3 separate regions of the Homo sapiens genome follow, and all the other regions are linked to region 1. The links come from fine-mapping of genetic effects on gene expression. A gene starts in region 1. Each other region holds a variant in brackets. All regions are shown on one strand. Distances are between the middles of the regions. Region 1 holds the start of FZD2 (frizzled class receptor 2). Region 2 has its middle 26 kb from the start of LINC01180. Region 3 has its middle 40 kb from the start of LINC01180.

Evidence for each region.
Region 2: its variant is fine-mapped to the expression of FZD2 in whole blood (INTERVAL, PIP 0.93).
Region 3: its variant is fine-mapped to the expression of FZD2 in whole blood (TOPMed, PIP above 0.99). The same link has a PIP of 0.9 or more in blood mononuclear cells and monocytes.

Annotation. Positions count from the first base shown.
Region 1 is chr17:44,553,209-44,561,386 of GRCh38, reverse strand. It overlaps FZD2 (frizzled class receptor 2), which reads right to left and starts at 3,903. Exons shown (of 1, transcript NM_001466.4): 1 at 125-3,903. The coding sequence starts at 3,698. The coding sequence ends at 2,001. RefSeq lists silencers at 3,157-3,206, 3,452-3,698, 4,097-4,196 and enhancers at 2,693-3,653, 3,871-4,638, 4,639-5,408.
Region 2 is chr17:44,619,860-44,628,037 of GRCh38, reverse strand. No RefSeq gene overlaps it. Among named protein-coding and RNA genes, the nearest start is that of LINC01180, 26 kb to the left of the region's middle. The variant C/A (reference allele first, on the strand shown) is at 3,869.
Region 3 is chr17:44,606,175-44,614,352 of GRCh38, reverse strand. No RefSeq gene overlaps it. Among named protein-coding and RNA genes, the nearest start is that of LINC01180, 40 kb to the left of the region's middle. RefSeq lists an enhancer at 6,305-6,916. The variant G/A (reference allele first, on the strand shown) is at 3,261.

The sequences.
Region 1 (8,178 bases):
GAGCACTCTTCTCTGCCCCACCCCCAGCCAAGTAGGTAAGGGAGAGAGGGGAGGAGGAGGTGTGGTTTGGTTAAACTAATAAAATGTTACAACCCTGTTAAATACAATTAAAAGGATAGATCTCTCAAAGATAATTAAATGCACTTTATTATTATGATTATTAGCTTTTAATTTACACTGTTAAGAAATGGAAGATGGCGAAAACTGAGTTATGTGGCATACTTGTATTCAAACTAATCCTTTGGAATTAAAATTCTAAAATATTCCAAATAGTTGAGGGAAATAATATGTGTTGGAAACTGGAGTTCTCACACCAGCAAAGATACTTTTAGACATCACTTCTCAGGAAGTTAACTTAAGAGAAGTCTTGACAGGCCAGGCACTGTGGCTCACTCCTGTAATCCCAGCACTTTAGGAGGCCGAGGCAGGCAGATAACGAGGTCAGGAGTTCGAGACCAGCCTGGCCAATATGGTGAAACCCTGTGTCTACTAAAAATACAAAAATTAGCAAGGAGTGGTGGCGTGCGCCTGTAGTCCCAGCTACTTGGGAGGCTGAGGCAGGAGAAACGCTGCAGTGGAGGTTGCAGTGAGCCAAGATCGCACCACTGCACTCCAGCCTGGGCGACAGAGCAAGACTCCGTCTCAAAAAAAGAAAAGTCTTGACTTTATTTGTAGGGGCTCAGGGGAAGATAAGAAACATCTGCTTTAAACATCCTATCAATCTTGTGATATAGAATGTAATGTAAACACTCAACCCACCCCCACAGCCACAAAGGGCCTATCCAGAGACTTCTTCTAAAGCAAAGATACCACCTTTTTTTTTTTTTTCATTTTTTTCTGGACAAATTTTAAATAAACCAGTCTTTTTCTCAAAGGAAAACTAAAAAGCCCACCAGCCCATCAGTCCCCTCCCTCCAACCCACCCGTCTTTATCACTTTTTGAAAAAAATAAGCCCCAAACAACAACAAAAACCCACACAAACCAACCCAGAAACTGCTAACCTGAACGCCAGAGATTTTTGGCTGCGGGAGTGAATAGACTGCAGGGAAAGAAGGGAAGAGATGCTAGGAGGTCTCAAACTCCCCAGATTTGCAAACAAGTGCTCAAAGGCGAATGCTTCCCCTAGACATGAAGGGAGGCAGGATCAGTACTCCTGGTGGGGTGTATGTTGGTGGGGGCTGTTTCAAAACACACTTCAAAAAGCATTTTTGGGCCACTGGAAGCACTTGGTGCAGCGAATTGAAAAGAAGAGAAGCCAGACAGGAGAAAGATCTTCCAGCCTGCAGGGGAATGGGCCAGGGGGTGGAAGCCATTCCTCACCGGATCTCTGCCCTCTCCCCACCAGCACACCCCGACCCCGATTTTTTTTTCCACGTCTTCATCTCTGTTGGGACTTTTCCAAGAGTGAGTGAAGAAGACAGGACAAATGAGTAGGGAAAGAAAAGGGGGAAGGAAACAAAACGAATCCAAGTCCTGTTCAAAAATATCCAACGGCTTCCACAGGCCCAGCGTCAGAGAGGAGGCTCACAAATTTGGCTTTTATATTAGTTGAATGGAACAAACTCCTAACGACTCAAAGCCAACAAAAACAGCGCTCAGGCTGGGTGCCTCTCCCATCAGGCCCAGCCCTGCCATATCACCAAAAAACTCCAAAAGTGGGGCGGGTTTTGAAGGGCACTTAAGAAAGAGAACCCTCCCCCCAACTACACTCCCCAACACACACACACCTCATTCTTCAGTCCTGGCGCCCACACCCCTGTTTTTTTTTCTCCTTTTTTCTTTTAAATAGAAAATATATATAATTAAATTTACAAAGACTATTTACAGTTTTAATTACAAACCTTGTGGGGGTGTTGGGCAGAGAGTTCTCTTTTAAAAAGCAACCTAAAAGTGAAATGGTTTCGATCGTTTTTTATTTAAAAAAATAAAATACGGAGTCTGTAGGGGCCCCACCCCGGGCGGAGGAAAGCGCCGCGCGGTTCCGGCCTGGGGGCGTCCCTCACACGGTGGTCTCACCGTGTCGGCTGTTGGTGAGGCGAGTGTAGAACTTCCTCCACGAGTGCAGCGTCTTGCCCGACCAGATCCAGAAGCCCGACGTGATGCCCACGATGAGCGTCATGAGGTATTTGATCATGTAGACCGTGAAGTCGGGCGACATGCGCGGCGTGTAGTGCGCCGGGCACGGGATGGCCAGGCTCTTGCAGTGCTGGCTCACCCACGAGCGCTCCCAGTGCTCGCGGAAGGCCTGCTCGTAGAAGTAGCAAGCGATGACGATGGTGGCGGGCACTGTGTAGAGCACGGAGAAGACGCCGATGCGCACCATGAGCCGCTCCAGCTTTTCGGTCTTGGTGCCGTCGTGCTTCATGATGGTGCGGATGCGGAAGAGCGACACGAAGCCGGCCAGGAGGAAGGACGTGCCGATGAACAGGTACACGAAGAGCGGCGCTAGCACGAAGCCCCGCAGCGGGTCCAGGCTGTTGAGGCCTACGAAGCACACGCCGCTCAGCAGGTCGCCGTCGATCTGGCCCATGGCCAGGATGGTGATGGTCTTGACGGCCGGCACGGCCCAGGCGGCCAGGTGGAAGTACTGAGAGTTGGCCTCGATGGCCTCGTGGCCCCACTTCATGCCGGCTGCCAGGAACCAGGTGAGCGACAGGATGACCCACCAGATGGAGCTGGCCATGCTGAAGAAGTAGAGCATCATGAAGAGGATGGTGCAGCCCTCCTTCTTGGTGCCCTGCACCACCGTGCGGTAACCGTCCTCGGAGAAGCGCTCGTTGCACACCACGCGCTCCTGGAGCACGAAGCCCGCGATGTAGGCCACCGACACCATGGTGTAGCAGCCCGACAGAAAAATGATAGGCCGCTCTGGGTAGCGGAAGCGCTGCATGTCTACCAAGTACGTGGTGACAGTGAAGAAGGTGGAAGCGCAGCACAGCACCGACCAGGTGAGGATCCAGAGGCGCGCGAAACGCGTCTCCTCCTGTGAGAAGAACATGGAACCATCGGGCCGCGCAGGTTCGCAGGGCGCAGCACAATCACGCTCGCCCAGAAACTTGTAGCTGAGATAGGATGGCACCTTGAGGACGCGCGGGCAGTGGAAGGGGTGCTCCAGCGTGGCGTAGCGCGGGGGAGCGCCGCCGCCGCCCGGGCCACCCGGGGTGCCCCCGGCACCCGGCTGCAGTCCCGGCGGCGGCGCGGTGGTGAGTAGCGCGGGAGCTCCGTCCTCGGAGTGGTTCTGGCCGACGCAGATCTGCTCGGCGCCGTGGCGCGGGAAGTGCTCGCAGCGCAGGCGCTCGGGCCACTGAAAACCGAACTTGTTCATGAGGGCTTCGCAGCCCTGGCGCGCGCGCTCACAGATAGAGCGGCACGGCGGGATGGCCTGTTCCAGCACGGTGCACACGGGTGCGTACATGGAGCACAGGAAGAAGCGCAGTTCGGGCGAGCACTGCACCTTCACCAGCGGATAGAACTGGTGCACCTCTAGGCCTGCGTCCTCCTGGTTCGTGTGGCCCAGAAGGTTGGGCATGATGGTCTGGTTGTAGGCGATGTCCGTGCACAGCGGGATGGAGATGGGCTGGCAGAAGCCGTGGTCCGGGATGGAGATGCCCTTCTCCCCGTGGAACTGGGCCGGCCCGGCGGCGGGCAGCAGCAGCAGCGGCAGCAGCAGGCGGGGCAGGGCGCTGCGGGGCCGCATGCTGGCCGCCGCCCCCCACCCGGCTCCTTGGCGCCCCCCCCGCCCCCGCCCCCAACCCGGAGACTGCGCTTCTTCCCCGCCGCCTCCTCGCTGCGGCTGCCGCCTCCCGCGCCTCTTTGCAAACTTTACTCGCGGCCGCAGAGTTGGGGAGGCCGGGCGGGGGAGGGGGCGGTGCGCCTGCCCGCTTGCTTGCCGCGGTCGGACTGAGCAGCCGGAGACACCGCGCGCTGCTGCCCTCTCTCCTCTTCCTCCTCCTCTCGCCTCTCAGCTCCCCCTCTCCCCTCCCTTCTGCACCCAGCGACTTCTTTGTGCCTCCTCCAGCCCTCACCTCGGCCTCTCCGATCCCAATTAGTCGGTTTCAAGGGGGCCCCCGCTGGCGGCCCCGCCCTCTCCTCAGCCCCCCAAAAAAGGGATCCTTGAAACCGCCCCGTCGAGCTCTAAGCACCAACCCAAAATGTGCTCTCGGCCAATCAGATTTAAACCCGAGGACCAGGCCCGAGGGCTGGATTGGTCGACCACAACATAATGAGATCAGAAACCAGATGCCAACAAAACTTTCCCCCCCTTTTGCTTTTTAAAGAGACAAGCTATTATTATATTAAGGGCTGTTTGCCCAGCCCGGGATTTCTCCGGAGTTGCCGCGGCGAGATCGGGGGACACTACTCGACCCTGGCTCACTCCTCTTCCCGGGCCGAGGTGCTCTGCCGGGTGGGGACTCTTTAAACCCTTGCCCCCGCCCCCGATCCTCGAACCCCACCTATTCCTAGTCCAATTTTTCAAATCGAGTGAAAAATCTCAAATTTAAAAATTAAAACAGACTTTAAAAAAACTAACAATTTACAAAGACCTTTTCTGTCCGCTCTTTCTGGAGCCCAGGCGAAAGTTTCACTTCACTTTACACGTAGATCCCTCGCCCTCCCCCTCCACACACCCTTAAAAAACCCTCTGAAAAATGGGATCCTGTCTCTTTAAGAGACTCTTAAAGGGACCAGGACTCCGAGGCGTAATTGCCCCGTAGCCAACACAAAGGAGCCCATTATGGTTCTTTGTGTTCGGTGGCACCTCAAAGTGAGAAAACTCAGGAACTCGGAGGCCCGGAGCTGGAGGGTTGGGGCGGGGGGCTTGGAGGGAGCGAGGGAAAGGAGAATGGCCCGGAGCTGCGGCTTCTCCCTCCCGCTTCTTCTGCGGCAAATCTTAATTGTGCAAAGTAAAGTTTAGTTGCCCTAAGGAGGAGGTCTTAATCGAAAGTTAATGGTGGGGGGCGGGGGGTGACGGGCAATTTTGAGTGAAGGGACGACTCTCTTAGGCCTGACGAACGTTTGAGGGAATTTTCCTTCTGCCTCCCCACCTCTACCTCCGCCCCCTAAAAGCTTCCAGATCCCGTCTCCAGGGCGAGAGGGGAGTTTTACCCAAATCTTAAGTGGTTCCACACCAGAGAGGGGTGGCGTGTGTGACGCGGGAGGAAACTGGGGGGTTGTGGTGAATTATCCCCTCCACATCTCTCACCTGGTAAGGGGTGGGGTGTGGCCAGCAGGGTTCCTGCTACTTTTAGAATTTTTCTTTTCCCTTCTAGGATTTTAAATTTGGAAAGGGGTCGAGGAGGAATTTGCATGTAAATCTCCTGGGCCTGATACTGGATGATGGATCAATTATTTTCTGTTGTCTCTCCCGAGGGACAGGGGAAAGGGGGGACTTAAAAAGAAGAAAGAAAATTGAGTTTAGAAAGCCCCTTTGCTTCACAGTATGGGCCAAATCCTCACAGTCTGGTGAAATGTTTCTTGCTCCAATATAGAAAAGAATTGTTTTAAACAACAACAGCAGAAGAAGAAAAATAACAAAAAGAGGAAAGGAGTAGGGAGAAGGAAAAAATATTCTAAGTAGATGGATACAAAGGGATCCAGGTTTGACAGGATTCAAAAAAAAATTTTTTTTTCCTGATCGAATGAATGATATAAAGATGTTCCGGTTTCTTACAACTTGAAAATGTTCCTTATTACATCCTGGGGAATTTGCCTTTTCCCTACACCAGGATGAAAATTTTCCTTCAAAATTGGGGCATGAGTGGGTGTCGAGGGGGATATGCCTTTTTTTGTGCATCCCATTTCCAGCCCACCCATCTCTATTCCACCAGCAAGCCCATTTTCTCTCAGAGCAGTCTAAGGATGGGAATGTTGTGCTCTCTCTGCTCCATTTGAGCCTGAGCTTTTGATCCTCAGATCTCCTGCCTAGTCCATCTCAAAGCATCTTGAGAGCCGGTACCAAACATGGAAGCTGAGCAGTGGAAACAAAAATGAATGACAGGCTCCTATACCCCATTCAGGAAGCTCGCAGTCCGATAGGAAATTGAGAGCAAATCTCCAATGTAAACGCAGCATCTTCAATTTCCTTCCATGACAAACCCGTTTTCCTGGCCTAGGGCCAGGTCTGAATGACAGTTATCCCCTCCCAGCCACCCCAAGGCAGATGGGGAGCTGGGGAGCTGGAAACAGGAAATAGAGGACATTCTTCCATTCACTCAGGCAACCTTTCATTCCTTCAACACACTTTTTTTCTTATTTCAAACCACCATAATAGGGGCTATGGAGAATGTGGAAAAAGATGACAGCATCTGCCCTTCAAAAATTTATAGTAGGCCGGGGGCAGTGGCTCATGCCTATAATCCAGCACTTTTGGAGGCCAAGGCGGGCAATCACCTGAGATCAGGAGTTTGAGACCAGCCTGGCCAACATAGTGAAACCCCGTCTCTACAAAAAATACAAAAATTAGCTGGGCATGGTGGTGCATGCCTGTAGTCCCAGCTACTCAGGAGGCTGAGGCAGGAGCTGAGGCTTGAACCCGGGAGTCGGAGGCTGAAGTGAGCTGAGGTCGCGCCACTGCACTCCAGCCTGGGCAACACAGCGAGACTCTGTCTCAAAAAAAAAAAAAAAAAAGAGTTTATAGTAGCCCAGAAGAAAAGTGATTCCACAAAGATGTTACACTTGTCTAGCATTTGTACATGAAATAAGGAGAAATCACGGTATTTCATGTTTACTCTTGCCTTTCACGTGAGGGACCTGAGTGTGAACAGGACCAGAACCTGCATCTTCAGATTACAGGCCTACCTACAGCACTTCTCATTCTGCCAACCTGCCTCTTGAGTACAGGAGCCCTGTAACTAAAGGATGTAATTTGTTATTTGATAGATACAGCATTTATTTCTGAGTTTTTAAAAATTAGCTTGGGCAGGATGCAATGGCTCATGCCTTTAATCCCAGCACTTTGAGAGGCCAAGGCAGGAGGATTGCTTGAAGCCAGATTTGAGACCAGCTGGGACAAGAAGTGAGACCCCTGTCTCTACAAAAATTTTAAAACATTAGCTGGGCATGGTGGTGCATGCCTGTGGTCCCAGCTACTTGGGAGGCTGAGGTGGGAGAATTGCTTGAGCCCAGGAGGTTGAGGCTACAGTGAGCTGTCATCATGCCACTGTGCTCCAGCCCAGGCAACAGAGTGAGACCTCTAAATAAATAAATAAATTAGCTTGGTCATTGACTTGGACCCATTTGTAACTCTGCCACTAACTATACAGCCTTGGAACAGTCACTTTACTTCTTTGAACCTCAGTTTTCCCATCTGCCAAGTAGGAAACCAACAGATTTTAAAAATGTGAGACTCCACATCCAAAATAATTTCAGAATGACAAAAATACATTTCATAATCATAAAGCGCCTTTTAAAACAAGAAGTTACGTTGAATTAAATATTTATTCAGCAGGCATCCTGGGAGACCTAGGGTAATGGCTACCCTTTTTTTTTTAGACGGAGTCTCGCTCTGTCGCCCAGGCTGGAGTACAGTGGCACAATCTTGGCTCACTGCAACCTTCACCTCCCAGGTTCAAGCAATTCTCCTCTCTCAGCCTCCCAAGTAGCAGGGATTACAGCCGGGCACCACCATGCCTGGCTAATTTTTGTATTATTAGTAGAGACAGGGTTTCACCATGTTGGTCAGGCTGGTCTCGAACTCCTGACCTTGTGATCCACCCACCTCGGCCTCTCAAAGTGCTGGGATTACAGGCGTGAGCCACTGCGCCCGGCCAATTGCTACCATTTTTTGAGCTCCTGCTAAGTTCTGCACATGTATATGCCTACAAAGTGGGTATTGTTTTTTGTTTATAGATGAAGAATCCACCTTAGGTGAGATCTGGCAACTTTCCCAAAGTCACATAGTATGTGGCAGGGGTGAGATTAAAACCCAGGCCTGTTTGGCTCTTAAAGCTGTGTTCTGTCTCCTGCATCACATAGCCCCTAATATCTGTAAGAATTGTGTGCTCTTATTCACTTAACAAATTTATGGCCAGGCACGGTGGCTCATGCTTGTAATTCCACTTTGGGAGGCTGAGGCAGGAGGGTCACTTGAGGTCAGGAGTTTGGAACCAGCCTGGGCAACATAGCCAGAACTCATTTCTTTTTTTTTTTTTTTTTTTTTTTTGAGACAGAGTCTCACT
Region 2 (8,178 bases), 67 kb before region 1:
GACAATCAGCCTCCGTTTGGCCATCAGCACAGGGGTCAGGAATCCACCTAGAGGAGCTGGTGCCCCAGCATCCTGACCTGGGCCCGGCCTGCCTGCCTTCTGGGCAGGCTCTGTGGGTGGGTGGGCTTGTGCCAATCGGAAATGGCTCGGATATAATTAACCCAACTAATCACCAGCCTCAGCCCTGTGGGAGGGGAGGGCACAGCCCATAGCCACGGCCCCCCCAGGAAGCTCCCATCTCCCCATGCTCCCTCCTCTGACTGGGGCCTGGGGTGTTCCAGGCTCTGCAGCTGCTTTGGATGGTAGAATCAGAGGGCGGGCAGGGAAGGGATGTGGGAAGAGACATGTTGCTTATTCTTATCTCTGGCCTCAAGGGGGATGTGACCGGAGGGAGTGTGCCTGAGTGTCTGAGCTGGCAAGGGTGGGTGGGGGGTGACTGAAGGGATTGTGGGGGAGGGCTTGGAGAGAGACTCCCAGCCATGGCTCCCAGGTGGCACTGGCTGTGTCCCACACTCAGTTAGCACTGCCCTCCTGTCTAGCCCTCCCGGGGAACTCTCCCGAGTGGGATACAGCTTGTAGGGAATTCTGTGTACTGGGTTTCGTGTCCTGGGCAGGGCAGGTGGAGTGTGGCATCTGAGTTCATATCTCCCTTGCGAACAGTCCTGCGAGGCCTCCAAGGGGTATCCCAACACCCTTCCTCCCTCAGCAAGTGAAGCTTTCCAGGATCTGGACCTGGCTCCTCTCTCCAGTTTCACTTCTCTGCACTTCTGGGCTCCGGCCTCGGGACTCTCACCTTCTCAGACCAACCATACCAGTGGCCTGAATGCTCTTCCCTTCCTCTGATCTGAACATTAACTACCAGTAGCCTCAGAACTTGCCTCAGGTCAGGTGGCCCCTCTGCCGTCAACCACACCTGTCCAACCCTCTGACACCCTCTGTCCCTAGCATCGTGTTCTCACTTGCCAGAGCACGTCACATTCTTTTTAGTTATTTGTTGCCTTTCTTCAGTGTGACCTCCTTAAGGAAAGTCTGTGTTTGGTGTGTCTTTTATCTCTGTATATCAGAACCTAGCAAGATGCCTGGCGCATATGGGTGCCCAAGATCATAGGCTCAGGAGCCAGGCTACCAGGGCTTGAATTCTGCCTCAGCCATGGCTAGCTGTTGACCTTGAGCAAGTTCATTCACCTCTCTGTATTATGTGTAAATGAGGATAGTAATTAATTGTACCTACCATGTAACTAGTTTGAGGATTAAATTAAATAAAGTGTTTAAAACAATGTTCACCACATAGTAAACACTTAGTAAAGTCTTGCTGGGCTTATTCATTCATGTGTTGGCTCAGTGGATGTGTCTTTAGTACTTACCATGAGTTAGGCACTTGCTAAGCTCAAAAGAGGCACAAATGCAGTCCCTGCCACATGCAACTTCCTATCATTGAATGAATACATGGATAAGTATTTGGTGTGGTACTTGTAGGTTTGTTATATGTTTTGTTAAACAAACTCATATAAATGTTTGAGAATGTGTCCAGCTCAAATATTGAATAATTATGTATCTATTTGGATGGCATAAAACAAGCAATGAAGTGGGGGTAATCCCCTATAAACCTGACAGATGAGCCGGACGTGGTGGCTCATGCCTGTAATCCCAGCACTTTGGGAGGCCAAGACGGGCAGATCATGAGGTCAAGAGATTAAGACCATCCTGACCAACATGGTGAAACTTTGTCTCTACTAAAAATACAAAAATGATCTGGGTATGGTGGCGTGCACCTATAGTCCAAGCTACTCTGGAGGCTGAGGCAGGAGAATCGTTTGAACCTGGGAGGCGGAGGTTGCAGTGAGCCAAGATCGTGCTACTGCACTCCAGCCTGGAGACAGAGCAAGACTCCGTCTCAAAAACAAAACAAAACAAAAAAAACAACCTGACAGATGTAATGGCGATTGGAGCCTGTGGAAAAGCTTGTCCGGGGCAGAGGGTCTTGGAAACCTCCTGCCCAATCTTCATTGTTAATGAGAATGTCAAAAAAAAAGGTTTTTTTTACAAAGCAAAATAATTACTCTCATAGAAATATACAATAATCGTGTCAAAATTTTTATTTAACTCATTAATTAGTGAAGGAACCAGTAAGATGTTACAGTCAGTTCAAAGGACGATCCAAAGAGCAGAGACGTATTTAGGCCATCCAGAATGATGAAATAGGCTGGGCGTTGTGGCTCACACCTGTAATCCCAGCACTTTGGGAGGCTGAGGCAGGTGGATCACTTGAGGCTAGGAGTTCAAGACCAGCCTGGCCAACATGGCAAAACACTGTCTCTACTAAAAATACAAAAATTAGCCAGGCATGGGGGTGCATGCCTGTAATCCCAACTACTAGGGAGTCAGAGGGATAAGAATCACTTGAGCCTGGGAGGCGGAGGTTGCAGTGAGCCACGTTCGCACCATTGCACTCCAGCCTGGGTGAACGGAGTGAGACTCTGTCTCAAAAAAAAGAAAAAAAAAAAAAAAAAGAATGATGAAGTAGCAACCTGGGCAACATAGTGAGACCCTGTCTCTTCCAAAAATTTAAAAAATTAGTCAGGCATGGTGATGTGCACCTGTAGTCCCAGCTACTCAGGAGATTGAGGCTGCAGTGAGCTAAGATCATGCCTCTGCACTCCAGCCTGGGTGACAGAGCAAGACCCCGTCTTAGAACAAAACAAACCAAACAAAAAGAGTGATTAAGTAGGCACGGCACAGTGGCTCACATCTGTAATGCCAGCACTTTGACAGACCAAGGTAGGAGGATCACTTGAGCCCAGGAGTTCAAGACCAGCCTGGGCAACATGATGAGATCCAAAAAATAATCTACAAAAAATTTTATCTACAAAAAATAATTTTAAAAAATTAAGGATGGTGATGCACACCTGTAGTCCCAGCTACTCAGAAGGCTGAGGCAAGAGGATCACTTGAGCACGGGAAGCTGAAGATGCAGTGAGCCATGATCACACCACTGTACTCCAGCCTGGGCAACAGAGCTGTCTCAGAAAAAAAAAAAAAGATGAAGTAAATCTGCTTAATAGATGCTAAATTGGTCAATAACCACTGAGCAATAATCAATTGCATATGCACCAGGCAATTTGCATTTCTATGGACAAGAATTATTTCCATTGATTGGGTGGTAAAATAGCTCGATGACCATAAAACTAGAAAATAACACACAAGGACAGACAATAATCTTTTTGACCATATTGGAGTCTTTCACAACTCTCCTTGAAAAGAAGTTCTGTACTCAGGTATTTCAAGATGACAAGTGCCACTCACCTCTTTCAAAGAGCTTTAGTGTCAGTAGGGAGCCCAGGGCCAACCAAAGAGAGCTGGGAATCTGCCCACAGTCTCAGGCAGGAATAGCCTTTGTCACCTATTCTTCTCCACCCCAGCACTCTGGCTCCTGTCTCCCTCTCTTCCTCTTTCCCATTCCACCACCATGTCCTGTCAAACTGTGCAGGCAATATATTCACCCCTCTACATGGTAGTCACCATTTATTTTATTTTATTTTATTTTATTTTATTTATTTTTGAGACAGAGTTTGGCTCTGTTGCCCAGGCCAGAGTGCAGTGACAGGAGCTTGGCTCACTGCAACCTCTGCCTCCCGGGTTCAAGTGATTCTCCTGCCTCAGCCTCCCGAGTAACTGGGATTACAGATGCACACCACCACACCCAGCTAATTTTTTGTATTTTTAGTAGAGTTGGGGTTTTGCCATGTTGGCCAGGCTGGTCTTAAACTCCTGACCTCAAGTGATCCGCACTCCTCAGCCTCCCAAAGTGCTGGGATTACAGGCGTGAGCCACCGTGACAGGCCTAGCCACCATTTATTGAATATCTGCA[C/A]ATTCTATGTGCCAGACACTTAACATTCATAATATCATTTAATGTTCTTTGTTGTTGTTGTTTTAATTGAGACGAGATCTCACTCCATCACCCAGGCTGGATACAGTGGCGTGATCATAGCTCACTGCAGCCTTGAACTCCTGAGCTCAAGAGATCCTTGTGCCTCAGCCTCCCAAGTAGCTGGGACTACAGGCGTGTACCACCAAACCCGGCTAATTTTTAAAATTTTTTTGTAGAGTTGGGGTCTTGTTATGTTGCCCAGGCTAGTCTCAAACCCCTGGGCTCAAGCAATCCTCCTGCCTTGGCCTCCCAAAGTGCTGGGATTACAGGCACGAGCCACCACACCCAGCCTCATTTAACATCCAAAACTACAAAATGAGGGCTCTCTTTACCTCAAATTACAACATATTTAAATAACTGATGTTCATGAAAGCTGCTGTAAGGGCATCAAACTAGCCAGAGTGGAGCAAAAGTAGTCAGACTCTTAACCACAATACCAGAAATAGCAAGTGGGGTTATTTCTCATGCCAACTGTAATTAATTGGGTGACTACCTGGAGTACTGTGGTGAGATGGATTCTGAAGCATCCTTTTGGCTTAGTGGGAGATAGTGCTGGGATCCACTAGTGATGTCTGCCATGGTCACAGAATCAAAGAATGGAAGGGTAGGCACGCGGGCCAGATTTTTGTCAGGCTTGCTTTGTGTATTGTCTCCTGCATCATCTTCTGAACACCTTACTGATGTTGCTGATGGCAGCTACTCCCTTTAAGGGCTGAATCCTCAGCGTCTGGATCATAATGCTAGTTTTCTAGGTCTTTGCTACTCAAAGTGTGATTCCAACTGCGTTCTGGCCCCTCCTCTACCCTTCCAACAGTGCCATCACCTGGGAGCTTGTTAGAAAAGCAGGATCTTGGGGCTGACCTCATACCTTCTGAATCAGAAGTTGCATTTTAACAAGATTCCCAGGGAATTTGCACATTCAAGTGTGAGGAGCACTGATCTTTTATTTCATTTTTTTTCAGATGGAGTTTTGCTCTGTCACCCAGGCTGGAGTGCAGTGGTGCAACCTCGGCTGACTGCCAACTCCGCCTCCCAGGTTCAAGTGATTCCCCTGCCTCAGGAGAGTAGCTGGGATTACAGGTGTAAGCCACCTCACCTGGCTAATTTTTGTATTTTTAGTAGAGATGGGGTTTTACCATGTTGGCCAGGCTGGTCTTGAACTCCTGACCTCAAGTGATCTGCCCCCCTCGGCCTCCCAAAGTGCTGGGATTACAGGCGTGAGCCACCACGCCCAGCCAGGAGCACTGATCTTGAGGACTGCTTTTTTCAACTGCACCTGCCCCCACCTCAGCAGCCAGAATTATTTTCTTCCAGCAGGGTACTGGCTCAGTCCCAGTCTAAGTATTCCCAGCAGACCCTAACACTTAACCCAATGTTTACAGGCTATTTCGGACTTTGAGACATCCTCCCCAACATTAGAAAAACCCTGCAGAATTCTCTGGCTTTTCCCACTATGGGTGTGAGGGCCTGTGGGCCTGCTGGGCCCACCTCTACAACATGGAATCCTTCCCTGTTTTCGGAGACTCTGCAGAATCTCCCTGGGGCCTCAAGAATGCAGCCCAAACTTTACACTCTAGCCTTTGGGACCCTTGCCCCTTCTCATAGCAGCCCGGGGAATTGGGGTGGAGTTGGACAGAGCAAAGACATGGAGGAGAAATAGTTGCTGAATCTGGGAGCAATAGCTGTTCATTCAATCATTAGTTCAACCAGTGTTTGTTGAAAATTATTGTGTGCCAAGCACTAGTGATATGGCAATGAGTAGAGCATGGTCTCTGCTCTTGAGGAAAGTGGAGCTATTAATATATACAGATCGCCGGGCATGGTGGTTTACGCCTGTAATCCTAGCACTTTGGGAGGCCCAGGCAGGCGGATTATCTGAGGTCAAGGGGTCGAGATCAGCCTCACCCACATGGCGAAACCCTGTCTCTACTAAAAATACAAAAATTAGCCAGGTGTGATGTCACATGCCTGTAATCCCAGCTACTCGGGAGGCTGAGGCAGGAGAATTGCTCGAACCCAGGAGGCGGAGGTTGCCGTGAACAGAGATCACACCACTGCACTCTAGCCTGGCAACAGAGTGAGACTCTGTCTAAAATAATAATAATAATAATATATACAGATCATTGCAATATCATGTGATACAAAAGGCAGACACTAGGGTTGTCAGGAAAAAGAGGGGGCAAGGGCATTCCATGCAGAGAGAACAGTATGGGCAAAGCTGCAGAAGAATGGAAGAATGTGGCATGATCAGGGAGCGGTGAGTACGCATGGGACAGAGGATGAGTATGGGGAAGAGTGTGGCAGGGCTGGTTAGATGGAGGATTTGGGCTGACCCCTGCAGAATTTGGATCTCACTTTGGCTTCCTTGGATTTATAGAATGTGTGTGAGCCATCCAGCCTGCTCTTAGCACCAGAACTTACTTCTATACTGACTCGAGCCAGTCAGAACCAGGAGGCATTTATGCACACACGTGCATGCACACCCCAGAGAACACATCAAAGTCAGACTCCCCAGTCAGTGACTGACTGGGTTTCATCCCTACCGACACCCCCTGTTCACACTAGTGGGAGCAGGAATGGTCAGTTAATTAACTTCCCAGGAAAAACTCTAGGGCAGGACTTTGGGTCTCCTTGACCTGAAAAACGGATAGAAATGGAGAGAGGGCTGGCTACACAGATGTACCAGATCTGCCTGTGTGAATACCTGTGTGTGTGCATGTGGATGGATATGGGTGAGGCTATACCCGCACACCTCCAGGGAAGGGTGTGAAATGGTTGCCTCTAAATCACAGGAGATATAATCCTAATTCCTTGTCAGAGAAAGAAGGATAGACTGTTCCATCGACATCCCTCTGGAGTTCATCCCTCCGGGAAACTTCTTTTGGGGGTCAAAAAGTGAGGAGGGTTTAATGTATAACTTCAAATTCTTTGACACTCCTCCTATTCAGAGGTAAGGTCTGTGTCTCCTTGCCTTGAATCTGGACTACTTTGACCAACTGAATATGGTGGCAGTGACTCTATGTGACATCCAAGTCTAGGTTATAAAAGCCTTTGCAGGGCCAGGTGCAGTGGCTCGTGCCTGTGATCCTACCATTTTGGGAGGTCGAGGCGGGAGGATTGCTTGAATCCAGGAGTTCAAGACTAGCTGGGGCAAAATAGCAAGACCCTGTCTCTATCAAAATTGTTTTAATCAGCTGGGTGTGGTGACGCATGCCTGTAGTCCCAGCTACTCAGGAGGCTAAGTTGGGAGGCTCGCTTGAGCCCAGAGTCTGAAGCTGCAGTGAGCTTTGATTTCACCACTGCTCTCTAGCCTGGAAGACAGAGCAAGACCCTGTCTCTAAAGAAAAAAAAATTTGAGACCAGCTTAGGCAACATAGGGAGACCCTGTTTCTATAAAAATTAAAAAATTAGCTGGACGTGGTGGTGCCCACCTATAATCCCAGCTACTCAGGAGGTGAAGGGGGAAAATTGCTTGAGCCTGGGAGGTTGAGGCTACAGGGAGAAAAAAAAAAAAAAAAGCTCATGCAGCCTCAACCTTGGTCCTTGTAACGCTCAAACCCGTGCCCTTTGAGCTGCCTGAGCTGTCATGTAAGAAGTCAGACTATTCTGAGTTCACTATGCTAAAGAGGTCATATGGAGGTGTTCTGTTTAATAGTTCTAGTTGAGTTAATAGTTCTAACTTTTTTTTTTTTTGAGACAGAGTTTCACTCTTGTTGCCCAGGCTGGAGTGTAATGGCACGATCTCGGCTCACTGCAACCTCTGCCTCCTGGGTCCAAGCGATTCTCCTGACTCAGCCCCCGAAGTAGCTGGGATTACAGGCGCGTGCCACCATGCCTGGCTAATTTTGTATTTTTAGTAGAGATGGGGTTTCTCCATGTTGGTCAGGCTGGTCTTGAACTCCCGCCCTCAGGTGATCCACCCACCTCGGCCTCCCAAAGTGCTGGGATTACAGGCATGAGCCACCACGCCCGGCCAATAGTTCTAACTTTAGCCATGCTCACCAATACAATAGACATGTAGGTGAAACTGTTTTGAATTCTCCTGACCAGCCCATCTGCCAGCTGAATATCATCAAATGTCCTTATCAACACCTTGTGGAGTGTGGAGCGGAAGAATCTCCCCAGCCAAGCCCTGCCCAAATTCCTGACACATAAAATCGTGAGATATAATAAAACAATTGTTGTTTTAAGCTACTAAATTTTGGGGTACTTTGTTATGCAGGAATAGATAACTGAAACAAATGGTAATA
Region 3 (8,178 bases), 53 kb before region 1:
ACTTCAAACCCCAACTTTATGGACCATGAAATACTTCCTGGAGGAAACACCTGAGCCGAGACCTGAAGAATAAATAGAGTGTTGTGAGCAGTCACCTGTACAAAAGCTGCAAGCAAGAGAGAATTTGTACTTTCAAGGAAATGCAAGAAATTCAGAGAAGTTCGGCTCGACTGGAACATAGAGCGCAAAATTGAGAAGAGTGCCTGCAGGGCCAGGCGCGGCAGATCTTGAAAGGTATCTAAGCTCCATTGAGAGTCTAGATTTTATCCTGGGAGCCATGGACCATCACTGAGGAGTTTCCAGTAGAAGAGTGACACAGTGAGGATCTGGTTTATTTTATTTATTATTAAATTTGATTTTGAGTCAATTGTTTTGTGTGTGGGGGGTTTTGTTTTGTTTTGTTTTTTCAGACAGGGTCTCACTCTGTTGCCCCAGGCTGGAGTGCAGTGATGTACTGCTCACTGCAGCCTTGACCTCCTGGGCTCAGGTGATCCTCCCCCCTCAGCCCCCACCCTCCCTCCACCATGTAGCTGGGACACCACCACCATGGCCAGCTAATTAAAAAAAAATTGTGTAAGGCTGGGTGCGGTGGCTTATGCCTGTAATCCCAGCTACTCGGGAGGCTGAGGCATGAGAATTACTTGAACCCGGGAGGCAGAGGTTGCAGTAAGCCAAGATTGTGCCACTGCACTCCAGCCTCGGTGACAGAGCAAGACCCTGTCTCCAAAAATAAAATAAAATAAAATTACGTAAATAATTTTTTTTTTTTTTTGTAGAGACAGGGTCTCCCTGTGTTGCCCAAGTTGGTCTCAAACTCCGGGGGCTCAAACGATGCTCCTGCCTCGGCTTCTCAAAGTGCTGGGATTACAGGTGTGAGCAACTGCACCAGGCCCTAAAAGTCATTTTAGTTTTTGCAAAGGTACACACATGGTACAAAAGAGCACATATTAAAGCACAAATCCCCCTGACTTTCCTGTCCCCGGCCATCCAGCACCCCACAGGTGTAGCCTTTGGAATGCTCATTTTGGCTGCAAGTTGAAAAGCAACATGGTATTGAAGCAAGAGTGAAAACAGGAGACCCTTTAGGAAGCCGTTGAGCATTCTGGATAACAGCGGATGGTAGTGACTGTGAGAATGATTTTACACTCTAGGAGGCCAAGGCGGGTGGATCACTTGAGGTCAGGGGTTCAATACCAGCCTGGCCAACATGGTGAAACCCCGTCTCTACTAAAAAAAAAAAAACCTACAAAAATTAGCCAGGCATGGTGGCACGCCTCTGTAATCCCAGCTACTCAGGAGGCTGAAGCAGGAGAATTGCTTGAACCCGGGAGGTGGAGTTTGCAGTGAGCCGAAATCGCCCCACTGCACTCCAGCTTGGGAAACAGAGCGAGACTCTGTCTCAAAAAACAAACAAACAAACAAACAAAACAAAAAGAAAAGGAAAAGAAAAGAAAATAAATAGAAAAGAAAAGAAAAAGAATGATTTGAGAGACATGGAGGAGGCATCAATAACAGAACCTGGGGACTGATTGGACATGGGGTATAGGAGAAGAAGAAGGACGACACTCCAGAGAGGAGATAGTGCTTCAGTGTGCCAAGGAGGAACAAAAGGGGAGCCAAGTTAGGGGGATGGCGGGGTGGTCCGCGAAGATGGGCCACCAGCAATGCCGTCCCCTCATGCGCATGCTGCTCCGTTAGTGCATTTTCTGTCTCCTTAAATCCAGGGTGGAGCCGGGCACCTGATTACATGCCTGTAATCCCAGCATTTTGGGAGGCCAAGGCGGGTAGATCACTTGGGTTCAGGAGTTTGAGACCAGCCTGGCCAACATGGTGAACCCCATCTCTACAAAAAATACGAAAAATGACAAAATCCAACAAAAAGTACATCTCTACAAAAAATATGAAAAATGAGCCAGACGTGGTAGTGAACACCTGTAATCTCAGCTACTCGGGAGGCTGAGGCATGAGAGTGGCTTGAACCCAGGAGGCAGAGGTTGCAGCAAGCCAAGTGCGCCACTGCACTCCAGCCTGGGTGACAGAGTGAGACTCTGACTTAATAAATCAATCAATCCAGGGTGGCCTGTGATTTGCTCTGACCAATGGTGGCAGCAACACTGATGCCCTGACAGGTGAGGTCTAGGTCTTTTTTTTTTTTTTTTTTTTTTTTTGGAGACAGGTCTCTGTCACTCAGGCTGGAGTGTAGTGGTGTGATCATAGCTCCCTGTAACCTCCGCCTCCCAGGCTCAAGTGATTCTCCCACCTCAGCCTCCTGAGTAGCTGGGTCTACAGGCCTGTGCCACTACACCTGGCTAATTTTTCTTTCTTTTCTTTTCTTTTTTTTTTTGAGACAGGGTTTTGCCATGTTGCCCAGGCTGGTCTCAAACTCCTGGCCTCAAGTGTTCCTTCCACCTGGCCTCCCAAAGTGTTGCGATTACAGGCGTGAGCCATCGCGCCCAACCTGAGGTCTAGGTCTTAAGAGACCTGACAACTTCTACTTCTTCCCTGTTGGAAGCCAGTCACCATGTAAAGAGGTCTGGCCACCCTGGAGGAGAGGGAGCTATAGGGAAAGAGAGCGAGGGAGAAGCACCAGAGGATGAGAGACTATGAAGGAAAAGAGAGAGCCCCAACCAGCCCCCTTCTCCTCCAGCCGTCCCAGCAGAGGGGCCAGATATATTTGTGAAGCATCTTGGATGCTCCAGAACCAGTGTGGCAAGCTGTCCACACTGAATCTTGCCCAATTTGTAGAATTGTGAGCAAAGAAAAACTTGTATTATTGGCTGGGCGTGGTGGTTCATGCCTGTAATCCCAGCACTTTGGGAGGCCGAGGCGGGCAGATCACCTGAGGTCAGGAATTCGAGACCAGCCTGACCAACATGGTGAAACCCCGTCTCTACTAAAAATAAAAAATAAAAAATAAAAAAATTAGCCAGGCATGATGGCACATGCCTGTAATCCCAGCTACTTGGGAGGCTGAGGCAGGAAAATTGCTTGAACCCGGGAAGCAGAGGTTGCAGTGAGCTGAGATCGTGCCACTGCACTCCAGGCTAGCCAACAGAGCAAGACTCAAAAAAAAAAAAAAAAAAAGAAAAAGAAAAGAAAAGAAAAGAAAAACTTGTATTGTTGTAAGCACTCAGTTTTGGGGTGGATTATTTACTCAATAGATAACTGAAAAATGAAGGGAGTGGGGAGTAGAGGAGAGAGGCTTTGGGTTCAGTTTGTTGCCTTAGGGTTCTAGACCTCAGAATTTCACAACCATGGCC[G/A]GCTGCTTCCCTCCTTTCCTGTTTCCTTGCTAAGCGTCTACAGCTTTGTAGTCCAGAGCTTCAGCCTGGGAAGTTCAGGCATCTGGTCTGCTGTTTCTCTGGTGCCCAAATAAACAGCTCTAAAATTCAATAGCATGTTGATGGCTCTGTTTCTTTGGTCAGTCTATGGTAGGTTCCAGTCCACCTTTGGTTTGGGGGAAGGATTTTTTTTCCTCTGATTTGATACCCCTGGGAGAAATGTTATTTCTTTGTATTATTCAGCTTCTATTAATAACACAAGTCTGAATACAAAGTAGGTGTTCACGAAATGCCAGATGAACAGCTAGATGAGGCTCACTTGGATAGAGTCCTAAATGGGGTCCAATTCCTGAGTTCCCGTCCCACCCAGAGCCCTTCAGTTTCTCCATGTATGCAAAGGAGGTCTCACCTTACTGTTTCCCTGCAGCTCAGGAGCTGGTCCCATAGCTGGGGGTGGGGTGGGGAGTGGAGATACAGATCAATGATGAGTTAAAGGGCTCAAATGCTGTCAGAGTGTCATTCCCTCTGTGCCTCCATGGGGAAATGGCCAGAACTGCAAGGAAGCAGGTGATGTGACATGCATGGGCAGTGTGATTGATGGGGACCAAGACCTGGAGCGGTGGGTCTGCATTCCTTGGCCTGCAGAGGCCTGAGGAGGGGCCGCATGTGTTTGCTGTGTGCACGTGAAAAAAAGAGAGTAGAGAGTAAACAGATCCTTGTTGTTTGGCTCAATGGCCCTCTTCCCCTTCAACCCAGGACGGCCGCCAAGAGCTCAGCCAATTGAGATCACCTGCCTTTATCTGTCTCCATGTTGTGGTGTACTTGGTTTCCCTGCAGAACGGGACTCCCCAAGACAGGGAGCACACCCCTTTCTCAATTTCCTCTTCAGGGCCAGAGAGACTAGGGACCCTCTACGCAGTCCCTATAGGCTGCTCTTGGTGGCCCCTCCAGAGCCCCTTTCTTGCAGCTCTGAGAGGATGTAGCATCCTCCCGTGTCCCCCAACCCAGCTGTCATCACAGTGGAATCCAAGAAGGGACTCAGGAGAGACTCTTGTCCAATCTTCTCTTATTCAAGGGAAGGATACTGATCAGGGAAGTGAAACATCCAACGTCCTGGCTGGTCTCTGGCAGAGTTGAGGCCAAGACCTATGTTTCCTAACTCCCAAGTCAGTGCCTCAGCTGCCCGCACAGCCTCCCTCAGAGCTCTCGCCTCATCAACCTTTTGTTTTTTTGAGACGAAGTCCTACTCTGTCGCCCAGGCTGGTGTGGAGTAGCGTGATCTCGGCTCACTGCGACCTCCACCTCCCTGGTTCAAGCAACTCTTCTGCCTCAGCCTCCAAGTAGCGTGTGCCATCACGCCCAGCTAATTTTTGTATTTTTAATAGAGATGAGATTTCACCATGTTGGCCAGGTTGGTCTCAAACTCCTGACCTCAAGTGATCTGCCCGCCTCTGCCTCCCAAAGTGCTGGGATTACAGGCGTGAGCCACCACTCCCGGCACTACCTCTCTTTTGTTTGTCCTCTACTTTCTCTTCTCAGCCTCTCTCTGGCGCATGCCCCGTGGGAGGGACACTTGCAGCTTCGGGGAGGGGTGGCCAGCAGGCAGCCTTTCTGAGTGAGCGTGGAGCTTACGGCGTTTTTGAACACAGAGAGGCTGACGTGCACTGGCACACGCACACACACTGCCACATCCACATGCAGGTGCTACTTGACTCAGCTGCTTCCGCTTGGCCAGGGAGACACAGGCACACACACAGCCACACACACCTCTGTTAGGTGGCGTGCTCTCCACTAGTCCCTGCTCAGATGGACCCTGGCACCAACAGGAGTCATGGGACTCCTTCCATGGCCTCAGCCCTTGGTGTCCACAGCAGGCGTAACTGGGGGCAACAGATCAAGGACAGATCAGGGACAGTGGAATGACTGACCCCTGTAGCCTGGGATCTGGGAAGACAGGTTCAGAGCCATCATCCTCACGGGCTCATCTTTGTCCACTTAGGATTCCTCCCACTGGGGCCCTGAGTGTCACTCCCAGCTGGATAATGGGAGGGTGAGAACCCCTACTTTCCTTCTTCCTCTTGCTCCCTTTGCCACCCCTTCCCACTGCTTGATAAGAATCTGTTTAAACTAAGCTGCTGCCAGGCCATAGACTCCATGGAGACCCAGCTGGATCTCTTAAAACACAAGGGGAGATGTTTATCTTTTCTCCTAGCCCTGCCTGGGTTACCTCCTCCTGGCACTGCCAGCCAAGGGCCCTGCCTGGTGAGACAAATTAGGGAAGACCAAGCTGGGCCCTGGCACCTAGGCTAAGGGTGTGAGCAGTGTTGGGGGAGGGGTGGGCCTGGCAGGCGGGGGAAGGGCAGGTAGGGAGGTGTCCTTTCAGAGTTTACTCACCTCTTCCTGTCCCCTCACCTCCCACCCCAGCCCCAGTCACTCCACTGCCCCCCACCTCTGGAGAAGCTGAATTGGGATTCGATCCCCAGCCAGTTGCTGGAGTTCCGGAGCAGCTGGCCCAGGCCTTGGGGGAGGGGGCCAGGAATGCTGGGGCTGAGGCCTGGGCCGCCCCAGACAGAGCCGGCTCTGAATTCTGGGAATGTTTGTGCAGCTGGAGCCCATTAGGGGAGAGAGCCAGGCCGCTTATTAATCCCAGCCTTGTTCCCCGGGAGGGGCCAGGGCCCTGCACACGAGTAGAGGGGGAGAGGGCTCTGCTAAGGGAGGCCAGCCCCCAGCCCCCAGCCCCCAGCCCTCAGCCCTCAGCCCCCTGCTTGGTGGAGTCTCAGACAGGAGCTTGGAGATCTGGGGCCCTGCACTTCACTTGCATGGTGCACATGTGTGTGTGGGTGTATGTACCCACATGTGTGTGGGGATGAGTGTGGAGGCAGGGGTGTGGGCACAGTGAGGGGGCAACTGGGGTATGGGGAGGTACAGAGGGTATGGGGGGTATGGCAGAAAGCGCTCCTACATGGAGAGGCAGGGAGCACATGGTGGTCCTGGGAGGTGGTGTGTACACTCCTCAGGGATCCCCACCTGCCCCCAAGAGCTCCTGCTGCCTGCCACTCTGGCTAGTGGGAGAAGAGGAGAAGGAGGGGATGGATTTGTGTGGCCCAAGTGTTGAATGTGTGCACAGATTGCTGAGGACTGAGTGTGGAGGCAGGACCTCCACGTGGAGCCATGGGGGTCATGTCCTGCAACAGCTACAGGGGACGCCATCTGCCCTGACCTCAATGTGAGGAGCACAATCCTGGGGTTGTGCAGTGTATGACCTGCTCAGCTACACACAGTGCTCCTGGGAGTAGGCTGGGAGTCTGGGGGCCTGAGTTTGGTTCCAAGCTGGCACTGCTGTAAGATGTGGCACAAAGGGTGATGACACTGAAACCAAATGTAGGCCTGGCATGATGTTCCAGCTCTTCTGAATAGCATGGGGCCTTGCATCTATTTCTTTTCTTTTCTTTTTTTTGAGACAGAGTCTCGCTCTGTTGCCCAGGCTGGAGTGCAATGGCACGATCTCGGCTCACTGCAACCTCCGCCTCCCAGGTTCAAAAGATTCTCCTGCCTCAGCCTCCTGAGTAGCTGGGATTACAGGTGCCCGCCATGACACCTGGCTAAATTTTTTGTATTTTTAGTAGAAACAGGGTTTCACTATGTTGGCCAGGCTGGTCTTGAACTCCTGACCTCAGGTGATCCACCCACCTCAGCCTCCCAAAGTGTTGGGATTACAGGCGTGAGCCACTGAGCCCAGCTTAATCTCTCTGAGCCTTACTTCCTTTATCCACAGATGGGCATTGGGTCTGTCCTATGTACCTCATAGTAGTGTTCTAACTTGGTGCCATGGAGGGTGGCAGAGGAAGCACCGCTTGCCCGCCTGTTACATGTGTGTTCTCAGGATGCCATCTTGGCAGCGACCTGTCTCCTGTCAGGCCCAGCGCCGTGTGATAGACAGCTGTGGGGGGATGCTCTGGTACATCTGGTACAGAGCTGAGGTCCCCTTGTACTTACTGCTCTCACTCAGGCCCTGCCACATCTCCAGCTGGGGGCTAAGACTGTTAGATGCACAGGGTGATGATACCAGAAAGGTTCCAGGAAGAATTCTACTGGAACTTGGGAAAGTTGGGACCTGTGACGAAAATCCCAGCACCCCGTTTGGGAAACAGGGAGGAAGACGCCATGACCATTCCTTAGAGAGAGGGTTCGCTTGCACGGCCTCTGCTGAACTGCGGTCCAACCCTTCCTGGGAGAAGGTGTGACTTCGGGCTGGTATATTAGAAGGAAGGTCAACGCGGGACAGGGGCGGGGTGGAGGGTGGCTTTGGAGAGACAGTCATCGGCCTTAGCCATCCCCAGAAGCCTTGGTGAAGGAGAAGAAGAAAACCCTCTCCTCTAACCCCTTGTTTCCACAAGCCTCCCTTTGTTCAGAGGGTCAGCTTAGGTATGGTGAGTTCTCTTCAAAACTTCAGAGAGGATTTCCCTGGAGGGTTGGTGGAACAGGAACCACAGAACACCAAGGCTGGTGATTACTGAGACAACAAATGGAAATCTCGGGATGCGCAAAGAATAAGAGCTGTCCGAGAATCCCCAATCATGTCCCGAGGTGGTAGTCCCAGTGGCTTCAAATGCCAGCGGCATTTCTGTCATAGGTGGTCTCTGAACCAGGCACTCTGAGGGCCTCCTCCTGTTAAAGTCTAACACCAGGGCTGTCTCAGTTGAAGAGAACTGCGGAGGTGGGAAGGAGACCCACAAAATTCTGGAGGCTCAGCTCCTGCCTTCAGGGAACCCCAGTCTAGTAGGGAAGACAGTCCCTGACCTCAGGAAGCTCCTGTTCTAACCGAAGGGAGACACCATTTGTCCTCTAGGAACGCCCAGTGTGATGGTGGAGACATACCCTCTGTCTAAGAAACCCCCTC